Linked DNA regions of Homo sapiens: region 1 is linked to region 2. Evidence: fine-mapped expression QTL. A gene starts in region 2. The other region holds a variant in brackets. All regions are shown on one strand. Distances are between the middles of the regions.

Region 1 (8,000 bases), 75 kb before region 2:
TTTTCAGTAGGTACCTGCTGTGTTGAAATCCTTGGGTACAGACCTTTCTGGGAAGAGCAGAGTGCTCTATAACTAAAGCTTCTCTGCAGAGTGTCTAAGAGTAGCCTGCATGGGCTAGACAACCTCAATGCCTGTCCATGACCTGGACTCCAGCTTACAGCTGGAAGAATTGCCATTTGTGTCCTCTCCTTTTCTCTGCCCACCAATTTTTTTTCATATATTCCTTAGCGTCAGGTGTTGGGACCTCCTCTGGGAACTAATCCATGTTCTGCTTTTAAATTAATTCCACATCTTGTCTGAGCTTACTGCCTCCTCCATTATTCAAGGAATTTAGCCTGCCAGTTCCCTATAATGGTATACCCCGTCTCTTTCCTCTTTGCTCTATCTTCCAATTCTCATAGGTGGAGCTGCGGTAGACATCCAGAAGTTGTGGGATTTTTTTTTTTTAGATCTCCTTCTCAGATGATTAGGGACCCACACTTGCTTGCAAAGGTGAATCCTGCAGACCTAGCTGGTTATAAATCCATCAGCTGTAGGAGAAGTTCTAGGCCTCAACCTGCTAACTGTTTCTGATGGTGTCAGAGTACATTGTTTCTCCTACCCCAGGACAGGACCTGAGGAGCTACATCTTATCCCTTTCTAACTTCTACTGGAAGGTGAATGACAGGCAAAGCCTTGGTAGAATGTCCCAGACAGGCAAAAGGCAGTTTGGAACCTGTTGTGTGCTATAGAATCAAAAGTGATATGAACTGGTCTGCCACAAGATTTTTGAGATACTGGAAATAAGGTTTTTGAAAACATTTATGGCAATTAGAGTAAGTTTATGTTGCTGAATCTAATAAATAAAAAATAGGCCTGGCACAGTGGCATGCACCTGTGGTCTCAGCTATTTGTTACCAAAAAAAACCCAAAAAAACCAAACTTTTAAAAATGGAGCTTATATTTTATATGTGTATTTCCCTCCTTCCTTCCTTCCTTCCTTCCTTCCTTCCCTCTTCCTTCCTTCCTTCCTTCCCTCCTCCTTCCCTCCCTCCCTCCCTTCCTTCCTTTCCTTCCTTCTTTCTTTCCTTCCTCCCTCCCTTCCTTCCTTCCTTCCTTCCTTCCTTCCTTCCTTCCTTCCTTCCTTCCTCGGAGTCTTGCTCTGTCGCCCAGGCTGGAGTGCAATGGTGTGATTTTGGCTCACTGCAACCTCCACCTCCCAGGTTTAAGAGATTCTCCTGTCTCAGCCTCCCAAGTAGCTAGGATTACAGGTGCCCGCCACTATGTCCAGCTAATTTTTGTATCTTTAGTAGAAGCGGGGTTTCACCATGATGGCCAGGCTGGTCTCGAACTCCTGACCTCAGGTGATCCACCTGCCTCAGCCTCCCAAAGTGCTGGGATTACAGGCGTGAGCCACCACGCCTGGCCTTATTTAACTTTTCTAGTGATTCATTTTTATTCTATTTTATAAAATCATCATTCTGTGACAAAATAGAAATTTAAAAAGCAAAACCAACCGATCCCTCTTCACAGATGGTTTGAGAAGTGTCGGACTACAGTGGAAAGAACAGGTTTTTGAAGTGAATAGGGCTGGGTTGCTCAACCTTTCTGAGCCTCACCTTCCTCATCTGTACCTATCTTCCCCAGAGCTAAGAGAAATGGTGCATGGAGACAAAAACATATCCAGGCATATGTGCTCCGCCAGAGGTGAAGACAGAGGATTGTGGGGACACAGAGAAGGCCCTTCAGCTGGAGGAGTGATGAGAGATTGACTGGGGAGACGTCCTGGTGAAGTCTGATGCCTGAACTATGCTGGGAAAGGTGGGGCTTCGGCAGCAAGACCAGACACACTGGTGGGGGCAGCTTCCTCCTTTGCAGACCAGTTCCAGGCTCCAGCCTAGGAGCAGGAACTGTAGGGATGCTTAGAAGCACAGTCCCTGGTGAGAGCAGGCAGGCTGGCTGCATTCCTGTGGTATTTGAGGATTGATCTTGTCAGATTAGCAGCTTTGCTTTTTTTGGTTCAGGTACAAGATCCCCACGTGGGGAGTTCTTGCTGCTTGTGAAGAGCAAAAGCTGGTGAAAGCACAGAACATGATCCTGGCCCTCCTCCTGAGCTGTGTGAGGCTCCCAGCCAGGAGCAAGCAGCCCTGTGAGTTCCTCAGTGAGAGGGAGGGCCCAGGTCTGAGCTCCACCCACACAAGTCCCAGCGATGAGGCAGCAGCTCAGCAGAGAGCAAGATGCTGGCACCTTCAGGACTGTGTCCTGCTTTCCCTACTCTGTCTGCACCTGGGGAGACAGGTCACTCTCTGACTGGTCTCCCCAAATAAATAGCCAGAGCTAGAGGGGAGAAGGAGGGCTGAAGCCTTGCCTCCCCACTGTGGAGGCAGGACATGAGTCTATGCCTGCCTGCCATGATGAGGGCCCTTGGCTCTGCCTTCTGCCCTGATGCAGGCAAAGAGTCCAGATCCAGGCAAATGAAGTGTCAGAGGGAAGCCACGGCCCTACTCAGGGAGCCTGAGTTCAGTGAATCTCTCAGGAGAGAGGTCTGGGCTGGAAGAAAACAAATTGCACGTAGGTCCATACACAGCCCCCAGAGTGTGGATGAGATTGTCCAGGGTGATGTGGCGAGTATTGGGCCACGTGGCCTCTGTTCTCAGGAGTTCCTGGTCAGGGAAACACACACCTGACAGTTGGCAGCATCACGAAAAAAGGCCTGTTGACAGCTGGCCCTGTGACATCTTTGTGGCCCTTGTGTTGGGATAGACCCATCCTCTCTCCCTCGGTTTCAAGGGCTTAGTATGCGGAAGTTTCCTACACTGGACAACTTCCGAACATAGTTTGAAAACAGAAGATTGGGGCTGGGCACGGTGGCGACCAGCCTGACCGACATGGAGAAACCCCATCTCTACCAAAAATACAAAATTAGCCTGGTGTGGTGGTGCATGCCTGTAATCCCAGCTACTCAGGAGGCTGAGGCAGGAGAATCGCTTGAACCTGGGAGGCGAAGGTTGCAGTGAGCCGAGATCACGCCATTGCACTCCAGCCTGGGCGACAGAGTGAGACTCCATCTCAAAAAAAAAAGAAAAAAAACCAGATGATTGGAAAAACAAAATGACACCTTTGGCTTTGCTGCTCAGCCCCTTCAGATAGTGTGTCTGGGCCACAGGCCAATTGCCAGTTGCGGAACTTGCTCTAAGAAGCAAATGCCCAAATGGAGCAAGTCCTCCAAATGGGGCAAGGCATGTGCTTGAGGCCTGAGCTCAGAAACCAGCTCTGATGAGGGCTGGCTCTGTACCTGCTGTCTCCACTGGCCTTGCTCCCATGTGTCCAAGGTGACTATGATCAGTGAGGTTCTGGCCAGGTTAAGGGCTGTCTCCACCACATTCCCCGTCTCCATCACCCATCCTCATGTGTACCTCAAGACCAGCAAGAGGGATTAAGGGCAGGACTCTGCCAGCTATATGTTCACCCTTAGGCCGCTTCTGACCATCTCAAACCCCCTGCCTCTGCTCCTGTGCCCTTCTCTTCCTGCCCTGTGGCTGTTGCACACACAGGGGTCCCTGATACCCAAGTCCCTTCCCCTGAAGGGCTTCTTTCTGCCCCTCCCTACCCCTGAGGGCGTATGCAAGGAGAATGACCACTGGTTGGATCAGGCCCCATGAGCCCATGTGGGCCTCCTGATGGAAAGAATCCTTCCTCCAAAGCAATGACCTTTTTAAACATGGTCAGCAGCTGCCTCTGGTTTAGCCAGTTCTGCCTGTAGCCTAGTCATTTTGGGGGCAAAATGAAGAAGAGTGCAAGAGGCAGTAGGGTAGAGCACAGCAAACCGTGACCCACACTCAAGGCTGTGGGGAAAGATAGCTCATCCAGGAGGCCTGGGCTCCTGACGCAGCCCTGTCTCCAGTGGGCCTGCTCCAGGAAAGTTGCTAACTCTCATAGAGATGCATTCCTTTGCTACCGCTCAGATTATTGAGAGGAAACACAGGGTTCAGAGACCCCAGCGTGGCCAAGGAAAGCTGTTGGCAAAGGCACAGCTGCATGTAGAGTGAGGTTCAGGAGCAAAGGGTGAGCCTTGCTCTATCCATCTCTGTTCCAGTCCTCATCAGGTACTCCACAGAGGAGCATTTGCTAAAGGAAGAAAGGTAGGACTGGCCATTTCTGCCATGCATCTGGATCCCAAGGGCCATCCTCCATGAGCAGCAGGTCTCTTCCTGTCTAGCCATGAGCCCCTTTCCCTAACCCCTGGAGTGCTAGATGCAGAAAGGGAGGGCAGTGGAGGGATGTAGGCTATGTGGGTTACAGTCACCATGTTCTCCCTAGCCAGAGGTTGATCATTTTTTCCAGCCTGTAACTGGGCCTAATTTCAGACCTTTTCTGAGGGTAGGTTCAGGAAGTAGAAAGCTTTTGAGCTGAGGCAAAAGTGGTCTTACTGTACTTAGACTGTCATCTGTTGGCACTGCGGTGAGGCTGGTCGGAGGACGAGGGGTACATCTTTACCACCTGGCCTCACCGCTGTTTCACCGATCCCTGTGGCTTGACCTTGTGTGCCTGTGCCAGGTTCACAGCATCTCCTTCATGCTTTCTCAGCAAAGATGGAATACAGCTGGGAGCTCCTCTGCCTCCGTCTGGGCAAGTGAAGAGAGCTTAGGTTTTGAAATCAGGCAAACCTGGGTTAGAATCCCAACTTTGCTACTTTGCTAGCTGTATAACCTTGGACAAGCCCTTAGTCATGTTAAACATCAGCCTCCTTATCTGCAAAATGCGAATAACAGCCCCCATCTCATGGGCATTTATGGGGATAACACTAAATAATGTCCATGACATGTGTGTCCTGGTGCCTGGCATGCAGTGAGTGCCTCGTCTGGGGTGGTAAGTGTGGTTCTGTCTTTATGCTCTGACTGCCTCAACTCTCATGGAGACCTTCCAGTAATATGTCTTGGTGTGGA[GCTGTCAGGACTTGTATAGA/G]CTGCATACAAACCCAGGTGACTGGCATTTGTTGATACAGAAATACTTCCACATATTGGGAAATGTGGCTTTTGGCAACTCCAGCTACACAGGATGCAACCGATGACTCATAACTTATGCTGATGCTTCAATTAATAAATTAAATTAATAATTTAAGCTGATGCTTCCTGGTGCCGTAACCCCTACATGCCAATGCCTTACTAACCCATAGTCTTTTATGCCTTTGTGCTGTGCCTGCTAGTCCCCCAACCTGGAGTGCTTCTCCATATTCTTTGCCTTAAGAACTACTGCTTTGGCCGGGCACAGTGGCTCACGCCTGTAATCCCGGCACTTTGGGAGGCCAGGGCAGGCGGATCACCTGAAGTCAGGAGTTCGAGACCAGCCTGGTCAACATGGAGAAACCCCGTCTCTACTAAAAATACAAAATTAGCCGGGCGTGTTGGCACATGCATGTAATCCCAGCTACTTGGGAGGCTGAGGCAGGAGAATCGCTTGAACTCGGGAGGCGGAGGTTGCGGTGAGCCAAGATCACGCCATTGTACTCCTGCCTGGGCAACAAGAGCGAAAATCTGTCTTAAAAAAAAAAAAAAAAAAGAGAGACAACTACTGCTTTTACTTCAGTGAGTAACTTGAACGTTGTCTGGCATCAAGCACAGCAGTCTCTGCTGAGAGAACTGCTTGTGGCAGGCCTCTCCCCTCCAAAGGGGCCTGGACAAGGCAGGCACTCAGCTTGGCCAGCTGTCCACATGCATGTGCTGTCTGGAGTGTCTGTCCTCACATTCTCCACCTTTAAAACTCCAGCTCAGATGTCACCTCCTCTGTGAAGCTTTTCCTGCCCTGGAGCTCCCCCAGCTCTGTGTGCACCTCTATCTGTAACAGTTCTGTGTATACCACATTATAATTCCCTCCTGAGACCTTGTCTAATTTTTACCTCTATCTTACCCTCCATCACCACTTGGTGACTGACTAAACTGGGGACAGCTCCCATTTCTCTTGCCTTTATCCTATCACCACACTCCTTGCAGCTGGCTTGGGCTTGGGGAGGGAAATGGAAGCGGCGGGTCCTACTGACCTAGTTGGGTGTTCTGCCATGTCCAGGCCCACTGTGCAGCTGGGCCCAGCACTCTGGGCTTCCTTCCCAGGACCAACACCAGCAGCATCAACAGTGGGCAGAGCCAGGCGCAGTGGCTCACACTTGTAATCCCAACACTTTGGGAGGCTGAGGCGGGAGGATCACTTGAGCCCAGGAGTTTGAAACCAGCCTGGGAAACATAGCGAGACTCTGTCTCTACCAAAAAAAAAAAAAAAAAAAAATTTAATTAGCATAATGGTGTGCACTTGTAGCCCTAGCTATTCAGGAGGCTGAGGCAGGAGGATCGCTTGAGCCAGGGAGGTTGAGGCTACAATGAGCTGTGATCATGCTACTGCACTCCAGCCTGGGTGACCGTGTGAGACCCAGTTTCAAAAAAACAGTGGACAGAGTCTAAAGTGGCTCTAAGGACATATTAAATTCTGGATTATTCTTCCTTCAAAACATTGAGTTTGACGGTCTCCCTCAGTTGACTCAAATAACTGGATATTGCATATCTGTCTGTTCACTCATGTAATACATTTTTATCAAGTGCTGGGCACTGTGTGGGCACTGGGGAAATGGTTTTAAAAAACGCAGGCATGGTCCCAGCTCACTGTCTGGGGGAAGTAAATTGAAGTTGTAGCTCAGGGTTTCAGAGACATTCAAGTCAAGTTGAGAGTGAGAGATTTGGTTGGGTACTCCCTCACAGCTGCATTTCAGTGCCTGGCTCTGACCTGGCCACAGCACACACCATTGCTAAGTGTGGGGCTGTGGGGAGGCTGAAGCCCTGCACCCACTCCAGGCTGAAGGCAGTCACACAGTAGCTGTGCGGGCTGTGGCAAGAATGAGACTATGACAGCCCCGGAGCCTCAGAAAAACTGGCTTGTGAATGACTTTGCATGGACCAGGGTTATAGACAAACAGAAATGACATCTGAAAAGACTCTTCTGAGCAAGTCCCCTGGCACATTCACACAAGTCAAGTTCAAACAAAAGGCTGTTGATGACATTTCTTCGCACAAGTCACGAAAAGCTTCAGACCAAGGGTGAGCAGTTTCTGCTTCTGCAATTCGGAGATCATAAAGAATAAAGAATGGGTTGGGGAAAGCATAGCTCCATCACTAAGCCAGCTTCCGCCCCCTAAAATGGGGCCTGTCTGCTCAGTATGATGTTCTTAATCCTGGGAGACCCCACAGAGGCCCCAGTCTGGCAGAGAGTGTCCTCAGCGTGTGGGAGAAGCCTCCTCCTCCTCTTCCATCTCTGTGGAGCAGCGACCAGGCCTCCAGAGAAGAGCATGCTTGCATCAGTACCTCATAGATCCCAATCTGGACCTGCCCATGGTGACTGCTGCCCCACTTCCAAGCTCCAGAGACCCCAAGTATTCTGCCCCTCCCTGAACCCCTAAGCATTCACTGTCTACCAAGCCTTGTGCAGAGGTCTAGGGGAGAGTGACAGATAAGAAACTTGAGTGGGGGCCGGGCGTGGTGGCTCATGCCTGTAATCCCAGCACTTTGGGAGCTTGAGGCAGGCAGATCACCTGAGGTCAGGAGTTCAAGACCAGCCTGGCCAACATGGCAAAACCCCGTCTCTACTAAAAATACAGAAATCAGCCGGGCATGGTGGCGCATGCCTGTAATCCCAGCTACTTGAGAGGCTGAGGCAGAGAATCATTTTGACCTGGGAGACGGAGGTTGCAGTGAGCTGAGCTGGCGCCATTGCACTCCAGCCTGGGCAACAAGAGCAAAACTCTGTCTCAGGGAAAAAAAACAAAGAAAGAAACTGAGTGGGCAGTGTGGTTACTGTAGCAACAGAGCAAGCACAAGGAGCTGTGTGTGCTCTGATAAGGGCCCCTAACCAAACTGCAGGCAGGAGAGGCTTCCTAGAGATGGGGACACCTGTGCTGCCTATTGGAGGACAGTTAGAAACTGGCCAGGTAGAGAATCTAGGGAAGGGCAGGAATCACATGGAGGGAAGGAGACACACTT
Region 2 (11,593 bases):
TTTAATTATTATTTTTTTTTTTTGAGACAGAATCTCTCTCTGTTGCCCAGGCTGGAGTGCAGTGGCGCGATCTCGGCTCACTGCAACCTCTGCCTCCCGGGTTCAAGCGATTCTCCTGCCTCAGCCTCCTGAGTAGCTGGGATTATAGGCGCTACCATCACACCCAGCTAATTTTTGTATTTTTAGTAGAAACAGGGTTTCACCATGTTGGTCAGGCTGGTTTGAACTCCTGACCTCGTGATCCACCCGCCTCGGCCTCCCAAAGTGCTGGGATTACAGGCGTGAGCCACCGCGCCTGGCCTATTTTTAATTTTCTAAAAAAGATTTGCCATCTCTCCGCAGGCCCCATAGCTCCTCTGATCTGGGAGGCAGGATTTCATCCGCCGCCCCCAGGCCTGGAGAGTAGATTGCATCAGGCCAGGGAGTGACTCAGCCACCCCTTGCTGTTGGACTTCAGTGACTCACACTGCCTGCCCGCAGGGTGTCTATAACCTAGGTGCTTCATGACAAGAAGTGGCTTGAAGTCTGTGGGAACAAGGTCCTTCCGCCAGCACTGAGGAGGGAGGTTGGGAAGCTTAACGGTTTTCCTGGGACGAGGAAAGGGGTATGAAGGTTCTTTTTTCCCTGTCTTGGGAAGGGAGGAGGATGAGCTGTGGCACTCCTAGAGCAGGGTCATCATTACCGTGTAGACACAACTGATTACCAGTATCTGCCTTCAGGTTTCCACAGTCACGGAGTATTGGAGAGTGGTGACGAAGAAGGCACCGAGCCCTGGAAGGGGCAGTAAAGGTTTGAGCAAAGGCCCAACTGATCACTTCATCTCTCCTTTCAGTCCTGGACGCACAATATCCAGCGAGAGAAAGAGTTTCTGCGGAAGCTGGTGAAAGCTCGCGTCATCACTGATCTAAGCAGTGGCATCTGAGTGGGCCCAGCACATGGCCATAGAGGCCCAGGCACCACCAGGAGCAGCAGCCAGCACCACCTACACAGGAGTCTTCAGACCCAGAGAAGGACGGTGCCAAGGGCCCCAGGGGCAGCAAGGCCTTGGTGGAGCAGCCAGAGCTGTGCCTGCTCAGCAGCCAGTCTCAGAGACCAGCACTCAGCCTCATTCAGCATGGGTCCTTGATGCCAGAGGGCCAGCAGGCTCCTGGCTGTGCCCAGCAGGCCCAGCATGCAGGTGGTGGGACACTGGGCAGCAAGGCTGCTGCCGGAATCACTTCTCCAATCAGTGTTTGGTGTATTATCATTTTGTGAATTTGGGTAGGGGGGAGGGTAGGGATAATTTATTTTTAAATAAGGTTGGAGATGTCAAGTTGGGTTCACTTGCCATGCAGGAAGAGGCCCACTAGAGGGCCCATCAGGCAGTGTTACCTGTTAGCTCCCTGTGGGGCAGGAGTGCCAGGACCAGCCTGTACCTTGCTGTGGGGCTACAGGATGGTGGGCAGGATCTCAAGCCAGCCCCCTCCAGCTCATGACACTGTTTGGCCTTTCTTGGGGAGAAGGCGGGGTATTCCCACTCACCAGCCCTAGCTGTCCCATGGGGAAACCCTGGAGCCATCCCTTCGGAGCCAACAAGACCGCCCCAGGGCTATAGCAGAAAGAACTTTAAAGCTCAGGAGGGTGACGCCCAGCTCCGCCTGCTGGGAAGAGCTCCCCTCCACAGCTGCAGCTGATCCATAGGACTACCGCAGGCCCGGACTCACCAACTTGCCACATGTTCTAGGTTTCAGCAACAAGACTGCCAGGTGGTTGGGTTCTGCCTTTAGCCTGGACCAAAGGGAAGTGAGGCCCAAGGAGCTTACCCAAGCTGTGGCAGCCGTCCCAGGCCACCCCCATGGAAGCAATAAAGCTCTTCCCTGAGCCTGGCCTCTTTTTGCCTTCTCTGACTTTCCTGGAAGAAACAGGAACCTAAAGCCTTAGCAACTATGCCAAACCCTCGGGCCCTCTCTCCAGTCCACAGAGTCCTGGGTCCCTTTCACTTCTTGTGTCAATGCAGGACCTAGGTAGCCATCCAGAGGCCTCTGGAGCATCTCCTGTATCCTCTTTGCTTTGAGACCAGAGGTTTCAGGGCACACTCTTAGAGGAGACAGAGGCACAGGACTGGAGCCCTAGGACATTGCCTTGGGGTGCCACAGCCCCACCTCTGGAAGGACAGATATTCCTGCAAGCACAGGAAAGATATACTGCTGAGCCCCTGCAGCAAGCAGAGGCTCACAGACCTACCCTACTACTGACACTCCCGTCCCTCTGGGAAGGACATGCCCCAGCCCCAATCATTAGCACAGAGGCACACCCTCTCCCTTCAGCCCTGCTCTAGGTATCCTCTGTCATACTTTAGAAAAGATATCACGTCGCCTTCTTAAGAGTCCTAGAGTCTGATCCCTCTCTTCCCCAGCATCCCCAGGCAGGCCTGAGAATGGACAGACCAGACTGTCGCCTGCACTTGAGGCCATGAAGTGAGCTTTCTGTCACACACTGCCACTGTGGCAGGCAGTAAGTGGGGTGGCCGGCTCCTGCTCCTCTCTCCTGCCCACCCCAATCCAAGACTCCAGGCAGCCCTGGGCTGCCCTCCCACTGGTGAGCCCTAAGGCTGGAGTCCCGGCCATCCCAGGGACCAGCAGCCTCCCACATGCTCCTTCCCACTGTGGCCGGCCTTAGGCAGAAGCCTCCTGGGCTAGGGGGGTAAGGGAGGCCCTGACTGAGGGACAGGTCAACCCAGAAACCCCCTCCATTTCTACCGGAAATAAGGCCACTACCATGCACATGTTCCTGCCTGGATGGTGCCCCGTGGAGTTGTACAGGGCATAGGCTGAATGGCCATAAGTGGTGTCCCTGGCTGAAAAAGCCCCAAGGCAGGTGCCCCAACTGAGCAGCCGGTTGTGGGAGGTGACAGAGCAGACTGCTCCCTGCTTGGCCTCCTATCCCAGGGGGCTCCTGGCACGCCTGCAGCAGCCCCACCACCTCCAGCAGCAGTTCTCTGTGGTCTGACTTCTAGTCCTCACCACCGCGGAAAACTACTTTCACACCAGCTATGGTTCTGAGCCCTGGCCATGCACCAGAATCACCTGTGCAATTTGAAAACTGCACATGTCCACCCTGAAAGTCTGATTTGGGTCTGGGTTGAGGCCCGGATGTGGGTAGTTTTTAAAGGTCCCTAGTGGTTCAGAAGCATAGCCAGGGTACAGCTGGTCCACACACATCCCCAGCACTCTCATCCCTGACCACAGCTTCCAATTGCCAGTTGGTTGACAATTCCCAAATTGCCTTTGCCAGCGCAGCTCTCTCTGCTTCCTTCCAGGCTACAAATTCACCGGCTTCCTGAACATTTCCACTTGGATAATCCACAGGCCCTTCCAACTCAACATGTCCAACACCGAACTCATGAGCCCCTGCCTTTCCTCCCAGGAGCCGGGATGTACCCCTCCCCCAGGTCACCCCGCCAAAGGCACACTTTTGCAGGGTCTACCTACCTCCTCACCCTATCCAGTCAGGCACTAATGAATTTTCAAAATTGCGTGTTCCAGATTGGGGCCTGGCAGCCCCACGCTCCCCTCATGCCCTGCATCAGACCTCATCCTCTTTCCACAGCAGCCTCCACCTTTCTCTCCAACCCCATCCTCTTTACTACAGCCAGAGTCATCCACAAAAAATGCCTGTCTGATTACACCATTCTGCTCAAAACCCTCCCATGGTCCCCAGTGTTAGGATCTTTCCATCCATGTTACTCACCCAGCCCTCAACCCACCTGCCAAATTGCCATAATTAGGCATCTGAAATGCTGCCCTCCAGCTACCTACTTCAAGACTCAGCTCAGATGTTCCTCCTCTGTGACCCCTGCCTTCAGCCCTCAGTACCCACTTCTGCCAACACTGCCCCTGCTGTGCCCCAGTGACTCCCGTGTTTGCAAGTGTGTCCGTACTCCAAGCCCTAAGCAGCACAGGAGGTGAGCTGTGGGGAGACTAGAGCAGAGTCAGATCCTGAAAGCTGCGCAGAGGCTAAGCAACCCAACAAGGCAGGTGAACTGGCCGCTGAGAGAAGAATCGGGTGGAGCAGAGAGCAGCTGCTGCAGGGCAGACAGCCGGACCCCCAAATCTGCACGTACCAGCAGTCAGCCGCCCCACGCAGGGACCGGCTTACCCCTCGCTCCCCGCCCTCACTCACTTTCTCCCGCCCTCGGCCCGGCCTCCCAGCTCTCTACTTCGCGAGTCTACAAACTCAACTCCCGGTTTCCGTGCCTCTCCACCGCTCGAGTTCTCTACTCTCCATATCCGAGGGGCCCCTCCCAGCATCTACCCCCCTCCCAACCTCGGGGGACCTAGCCAAGCTAGGGGGGACTGGATCCGACGGGTGGAGCAGCCAGGTGAGCCCCGAAAGGTGGGGCGGGGCAGGGGCGCTCCCAGCCCCACCCCGGGATCTGGTGACGCTGGGGCTGGAATTTGACACCGGACGGCTGCGGCGGCGGGCAGGAGGCTGCTGAGGGATGGAGTTGGGCCCGGCCCCCAGACAAGGCCCGGGGGCTCCGCCAGCAGCAGGTCCCTCGGGCCCCAGCCCTCGCTGCCACCCGGGCCTGGAGCCCCACACCCGAGGTAAGCCAGCCCACTTGCCTGTTTCTGGTCCCAGCCCTGGATGGACGCTCTTGGGCTGGGGGAGAGGACAGGACCACCCCCCTCCTCTCCTTTCTTGCATCCTCCCTCTCTTGGGCCCTCGGCACAGTTCTCCGCCCCTCCCAGCCCCTCAGTCCCTCTTGTCGCTTGTTGGACTGTGCTGGCCTTGCCGGCCCACTGTAATGTGAGGCTCCCGCTGCCGCTACAGGGTGCAGACTGGCTGCCAAGGCCACACTTTTGGCTAAAAGAGGCACTGCCAGGTGTACAGTCCTGGGCATGCGCTGTTTGAGCTTCGGGGGAGAGCCCAGCACTGGTCCCCGGAAAGGTGCCTAGAAGAACAAGGTGCAGGACCCCGTGGTGAGTAGCGGGCTGGTGGATGGGGAGGCAAGGGCCAGAGAACCAAATGGCCCTAGACCACAAGGAGGTAGGAGGCAGGGCCTGAGCTGCCCTCAAGAGACCTGCTCCCGGGCTCCCCCTAGCGCAGAGGGCTCCTAAGGCTGCCCTGCCTGCCTTTCCCTCCATCACGGACAACAGTCACTGGCCTGGCTCGGAGGCCTTGATTCCACTTAGCCAAGAGGCACACACCAGGACCTGGAGGACAACCCCGGGAAGGCCTGGGGGTCTGTTCCACAGGTGTGCAGGCATTCTGTGTGCTAAAGGATGGGGATGAGGGTGGTAGCTGGGACCCAAGAGGAGGCTGGCTAATGAGGACTTACGAAGGCTCTAGGGCCCCAAAAGGGTGTTTGGGAGTGCTAGCAGTGGGAGCTCAGGAAGGCTGGCTGGGATCAGGAACGATGGCTCAAGGGGGAAACTTCTAGGAGCATGACTAGGCTGCCAGATCCATAGGAGGCTGGGAGGGGGACAGACCTAGACCAGCTCCCAGGGTGGCTCAGCTCTCAGAGACCAGGCTGGTATGGAAGCCTAGCTGGCCCTCCTGGGAGTGGCTCAGGCCTGAGTGTAGCTGAGGGGATGGAAAAGCCCACCCTGCTTGGAATCTGCAGGCTTGGCAGACTCTGCCCCCTTGTGGCCACAGGAAGCCATGACCCAGGCCCCATGTTTTCAGAGGGCCCATTAGCTCCCACCATCCCCCGGCTCTGTGGTCATCGAGGGACACCTATAGTCAGAGGAGAGAACTCAGGTGGCTCTGGGTCCAGAACACAGTTCACAGAGGGGCGAGGTGAAGCAGCTCTGGGTGGGCAGCACAGGCTGAGGCTTGGGGCTCACTATCATTAGATAACTCTTAGAGTGACCAGCTAGCACCCTAATTCTTCTCCAGCCCTCAGCTTCCTCTCCGGCAGCCTGGGGTGAAGGCCTCTGTAGGACCAAGTGTGTCCAGCTATAACTCCTTCCAGCCACTTCTGGCATCTCCAGACCTACAACGCAGAGCAGGAAGGTTCTGGGAAAAGAGGACCCCTCTCTCCCCTCCAGCTGTGTGACCTTGTAACCTTAGACAACCTCTGAGCTTCTCTGAGCCTTGTTTGCTCATCTGGAAAAAGGGGATTAAACCATTTACCTCATGGAGTTGTGAAAGAATAGCTGCAAAGCACCTAACACATAGTAAGGTTCCCAGTGCAGCTACTTCTGCTGGGTTGAGTCTAGCTGTGTAGGCCCCTTGTTCCTCACCTGGAGAAACTGGGGTGGCAGGCCGGTCCCCCACAAAAGATAACTCATCTCTTAATTTGCAAGCTGCCTCAACAGGAGGGTGGGGGAACAGCTCAACAATGGCTGATGGGCGCTCCTGGTGTTGATAGAGATGGAACTTGGACTTGGAGGCCTCTCCACGCTGTCCCACTGCCCCTGGCCTAGGCAGCAGGTGAGTGGTTCTCCCAGTGACTCCTACCTGGTACTGAGGAAAGGCGGCTTGACTGGTGAGGGAGAGCAGGGCTTGGCTTGGGCAGCGGTTAGGTGTGGGAGGGAAAATGGTCAGGGAGGGACCAGGTGAATGGGAGGAGGAGCGGGACTTCTCTGAATGGTCGGTGCACTCAGGTGATTCCTCCCCTGGGCTCCCAGAGGCAGCAAACCCATTATACTGGAACCTAGGCCCTTCCTGAGTTTCCCCTCCACACAGCTAGGAGCCCATGCCCGGCCTGATCTCAGCCCGAGGACAGCCCCTCCTTGAGGTCCTTCCTCCCCAAGCCCACCTGGGTGCCCTCTTTCTCCCTGAGGCTCCACTTGGTCTCTCCGCGCAGCCTGCCCTGTGGCCCACCCTGGCCGCTCTGGCTCTGCTGAGCAGCGTCGCAGAGGCCTCCCTGGGCTCCGCGCCCCGCAGCCCTGCCCCCCGCGAAGGCCCCCCGCCTGTCCTGGCGTCCCCCGCCGGCCACCTGCCGGGTAGGTGAGAGGGCGAGGGGGCGGGGCGGGGCTGGCCCGGGACACCGCGCGTGACTGGGTCTCATTCCAGGGGGACGCACGGCCCGCTGGTGCAGTGGAAGAGCCCGGCGGCCGCCGCCGCAGCCTTCTCGGCCCGCGCCCCCGCCGCCTGCACCCCCATCTGCTCTTCCCCGCGGGGGCCGCGCGGCGCGGGCTGGGGGCCCGGGCAGCCGCGCTCGGGCAGCGGGGGCGCGGGGCTGCCGCCTGCGCTCGCAGCTGGTGCCGGTGCGCGCGCTCGGCCTGGGCCACCGCTCCGACGAGCTGGTGCGTTTCCGCTTCTGCAGCGGCTCCTGCCGCCGCGCGCGCTCTCCACACGACCTCAGCCTGGCCAGCCTACTGGGCGCCGGGGCCCTGCGACCGCCCCCGGGCTCCCGGCCCGTCAGCCAGCCCTGCTGCCGACCCACGCGCTACGAAGCGGTCTCCTTCATGGACGTCAACAGCACCTGGAGAACCGTGGACCGCCTCTCCGCCACCGCCTGCGGCTGCCTGGGCTGAGGGCTCGCTCCAGGGCTTTGCAGACTGGACCCTTACCGGTGGCTCTTCCTGCCTGGGACCCTCCCGCAGAGTCCCACTAGCCAGCGGCCTCAGCCAGGGACGAAGGCCTCAAAGCTGAGAGGCCCCTGCCGGTGGGTGATGGATATCATCCCCGAACAGGTGAAGGGACAACTGACTAGCAGCCCCAGAGCCCTCACCCTGCGGATCCCAGCCTAAAAGACACCAGAGACCTCAGCTATGGAGCCCTTCGGACCCACTTCTCACAGACTCTGGCACTGGCCAGGCCTCGAACCTGGGACCCCTCCTCTGATGAACACTACAGTGGCTGAGGCATCAGCCCCCGCCCAGGCCCTGTAGGGACAGCATTTGAAGGACACATATTGCAGTTGCTTGGTTGAAAGTGCCTGTGCTGGAACTGGCCTGTACTCACTCATGGGAGCTGGCCCCTATTTATTATTTCTAAGTTATTTATTTACTTCTGTGGCTTGTCAGATCCTTTCCTGGGCAGCAGGGGGTTGGGAAGAAGAGGCTGGATGGAGATCATGCCTTGCTGATCGCACTCACACACCTCAGGCTGACTCAGCAATCACAGACCTGGCCTGGATCTTCGGCCCCCACCCAGCAGCTCCGGGATGGGAGGCATGGAACACAGGCAGGGGCAGGGCGGGCAGCAAGGGTGCAGTCACTAGTCCTGGCAGGCTGCTCACTTGGGCCTGGGCTTACCTCTGGGGAAAGAGACTACAGAGGCTTCTGTGGAGAAAGCCCTGTCTCTGTGACCTCTGGCATCTTTGTGGCCCCCGCTTAGTGGGTAAAGACACAGAGAAGCACCCATTGCCCCACCCCACTGTCATTGATCAGTGTCTTACCATCCAGGGAATTGTCTTGAGGGTGCCTTGTCAGATATACACATGCCTCTGCTTGCAGACAGGCCAGCATGGTTAACTCACTATCCACATTCCATGAAGCAGCCCAGGGCATGAGGGCATCTGAAAAAAACCGAGGGTTGGTAGAGGGTGCGGTGGGGTGCTGGCTCCGGTGAGCAAAGCACAGAGCTCCATGTGGATAAGGAGGCAGGAAAAGATAAGGGCCCCAGCAGGATCTGCATCTTGGGTGATGAACAAGGATATTCATTAATTCAAACAAATATTTATTAAGCACCTATTATATGTCAGATACTGATTATATGACAGATGCCAAGGATACAGAAGTGAAACAGACATGATCCCTGCCCTTGAGAAGCTTCAACCAGGAGAGACAGACAATAAGTAAGCAATTACAGTAATAATTATTTAAATTCAATTTGGCAAATGGTACGAAAAGGACAGGAAGCTAAGAAGTCCACACCTTCGTGGGGAAGAAAGGAGAAGTTACTGCTGACTCTGGCCTCTCATACCACCCCCAAGTCACCTCCAAAAGGCCAGGGCTATCCCTAAGCTTTTCTGGATATCCTTTCAAACCTTGTTTCCCATGTCCTATGCATTTGTATTGGGGAGGCCTCTATGATTTTTCTTTTTTGGAAATGAGATGGGGGCATGGATTTGGAAAGGATGCTAAGTCTGAGGAACTGTGGGACATCCAGAGGGGTTGTCAGGAGGCAGTGGGATCTGCTGGTCTAGAGCTGCCGAGGGAGGTCTGGGCTGGATTGATGTGACAGCTGTCAGCACAGAGGCAGGAGCTGCAGCCGGGGGTGAATGAGAGTACCATGAGAGATGGAGAGGGTCGAGGGCGAGATCCCTCAGGCATTTGACGCTGCTGAGAGAAATTCCTTCCAATCCGCCTGTGTGCCTTCCTGCTTTGGCACAGATGCCCCCTTCACCCAGGCTAGAGTGAGGAGCTGGCAAGAGCTCTCTGAAGGCTGTGCCCATTCTGGGTCAAGGAGGAGAAACGTGTGTGTGCTCCCACTCTTCTGCATTCACTGCCCCAGTTCTAGATGCTCCAAAAATTTCGATGCCTTTGCTCCCTTCAAACACCCTGTTGGCCCCTCTCTGCCTCCAAACGGATTCGGGATCCTTAGTTCCACCTTCCCTCCTGCAAAGAAAATGGCCCCAGGGCCATACAGTTTACAGAGGGCTGGCTGCAGGCAGAGAAGGACATTCTGTCAATTCCAGGGTTATTGGGGCCAGGCAGCCCCCTGCTAGTGAGACTTTAAAGCCTAGCCTAGTCCCCAAACCCTGCCACTCAGTAGACACGGCTGCTCCAGAGCCAGTAAAGGAGACTGACTGAAGCCATCTCTGACAATGCTCACAGTGAGAGGGCCACAGCCCAAGCCAAAGGTGCTGGCTGTCAACATTCCCCAGGCTGCCAGCTTTTGAGGGAACAGGGCTCACCCCAGCTGGAGGCTGCATTCTGGGCCCCAGACAGCTTGTGCTCAACATCTCAGAGTCCGGAACAAGACAGCAACAGCTCCAAGAACACATTCCCATATGAATTAGCCTCAGTTTGCAACTCAGGACAACCCAAATCAAAAGGAAGACAGTGAAGGAGGGAAGGAGGGGAGGGAAGGAAGGAGGGGAGGGAGGGAGGGAGGGGAGGGAGGGAAGGAGGGGAGGGAGGGAGGGGGAGGGAGGGAGAGAGGGAAGGAAGGAAGGGGAAAGAGAGAGAGAAAGCAAGAAGCAAGCAAGAAAGAAAAGGTTGTTTTCCCCAAAGGAAACAGGCTGCAGAGCTGTACCTCTGTTTACCACATAGTAGCTATAACCTGTCACCAGGTGGCACATTGTAGCTCCTGGGGCCACAGGTGACTCTGGTCAATACTAAAGCCAAAGGCCATTTAGTCCTTTGAAGTCTCAGAAGCATTCGATAGTGTCAGTCCTCCTTGAAAACCTGTCTTCCCGTGACTCTCTTGGTCCAATACTCTCCGGGTTCTCCTTCCACTCCTCCAGAGGCTTGTTCTCAGACGACTTCTGAGTTCCTCTTCCTCTCTCTGCCTCTCATGTTCCTCAGAGCTCTGATACCGACTCTCTCTCCTCTTCCCATTCTACTCTCTCCCTGAGCAGCACTGTCTACTCCCGTGGTTTCAGTTACCACCTCCATGCTAACCATGCTCACATTTTATCTCCAGCCTAGAACATTCACCTGAGCCCCAAGTCTGTAATTCCAATACCTCTATCTGTATATCCTGGGAGACATCAAGCTTAACATATCCATACTGGATGTCTTCCGTTTCCTCCTTCAGATCTGCTGTCCACCCTTCTCCAGCCTGCTCTGCTCCTCACATCAATGAGCTTCCCTGCTGTCCAGCTTCCAGACCCTCCCCAGTGTTCCCTGCTCAGTGAGTGCACCAACCTCATCCAGTGACACAGCCAGAAACTTGGGCAATCTCCTAGGCTCCTTAAGCTCTGTCATGTCCCTTAAGCATTGGTCACCAAATCCTTAGATCCTGCAGATCCATCCCCTTTCCCTATCCCCAGTGCTATTCTGCTGAAGCCTTCATAATTTTTTGGATGGTTTATTCCTCATCCTCCTACCTGGTCTCACTGTCTCCAGTCACAACTCCCTCCAACCATTCTCAGCGCTGCAGCCAGATAAGTTGCCTTCTCTTCATATTAACCGAGCATGAACTGTCGTGCACTGGGCTAGTTTCAGGGATTCAGAGACCAGTGAGAAACATGTTTTGCCATCAAGGAAACTATACTTGGAGATGGAAGTAGGGGTAGGGTAGCAAATAAAAGTAAAAGACATCCTGTTAAATTTGGATTTCAGGCCCTGCGTGGTGACTCATGCCTGTAATCCCAGCACTTTGGGAGGCTGAGGTGGGCGGATCATGAGGTCAAGAGAGTGAGACCACCCTAGCCAACATGGTAAAACCCGGTCTCTACTAAAAATATAAAAATTAGCTGGGCGTGGTGGCACGCACCTGTAGTCCCAGCTACTTGGGAGGCTGAGGCAGGAGAATCGCTTGAACCCGGGAGGCAGAGGTTGCAGTGAGCCAAGATTGTGCCACTGCACTCTAGCCTGGCGACAAAGTGAGACTCTGTCTCAAAAAAAAAAATGGATTTAAGGTAAACAATAAATACACCTTTTTTTTTTTTAGATAGGGTCTTGCTGTGTCCCTCGGGCTGGAGTGCAGTGGTGTGATCTCAGTTCACTGCAACCTCCACCTCCTGGGCTCAAGCGATCCTCTCACCTTA

Which allele goes with the higher level. Positions count from the first base shown, and alleles are read on the strand shown. Sizes are in standard deviations (SD) of each study's normalised expression.
In carriers of allele G in region 1, the expression in sun-exposed skin of the gene that starts at base 4,502 in region 2 tends to be lower than with GCTGTCAGGACTTGTATAGA alone (small effect, 0.38 SD a copy in GTEx).

The links. PIP is the estimated chance that this variant, and not a neighbour inherited with it, causes the effect.
Region 1: its variant is fine-mapped to the expression of ARTN in sun-exposed skin (GTEx, PIP above 0.99).

Annotation. Positions count from the first base shown.
Region 1 is chr1:43,856,509-43,864,508 of GRCh38, forward strand. The region is part of intron 5 of ST3GAL3 (ST3 beta-galactoside alpha-2,3-sialyltransferase 3); the gene reads left to right. Among named protein-coding and RNA genes, the nearest start is that of MIR6079, 22 kb to the left of the region's middle. RefSeq lists an enhancer at 1,612-2,230. The variant GCTGTCAGGACTTGTATAGA/G (reference allele first, on the strand shown) is at 4,926.
Region 2 is chr1:43,929,300-43,940,892 of GRCh38, forward strand. ARTN (artemin) reads left to right here and starts at 4,502. Exons shown (of 5, transcript NM_057091.3): 1 at 4,502-4,586; 2 at 4,813-4,961; 3 at 6,291-6,417; 4 at 6,794-6,932; 5 at 7,003-7,941. The coding sequence starts at 6,358. The coding sequence ends at 7,466. It overlaps ST3GAL3 (ST3 beta-galactoside alpha-2,3-sialyltransferase 3), which reads left to right. Exons shown (of 12, transcript NM_006279.5): 12 at 833-1,860. The coding sequence ends at 922. LINC02918 (long intergenic non-protein coding RNA 2918) reads right to left here and starts at 11,242. Exons shown (of 2, transcript XR_947283.2): 1 at 10,931-11,242; 2 at 8,597-9,494. RefSeq lists enhancers at 298-592, 1,519-1,578, 2,764-3,264, 3,894-3,943, 6,033-6,627 and 1 more and silencers at 4,454-4,543, 5,094-5,143, 7,167-7,216, 7,337-7,526.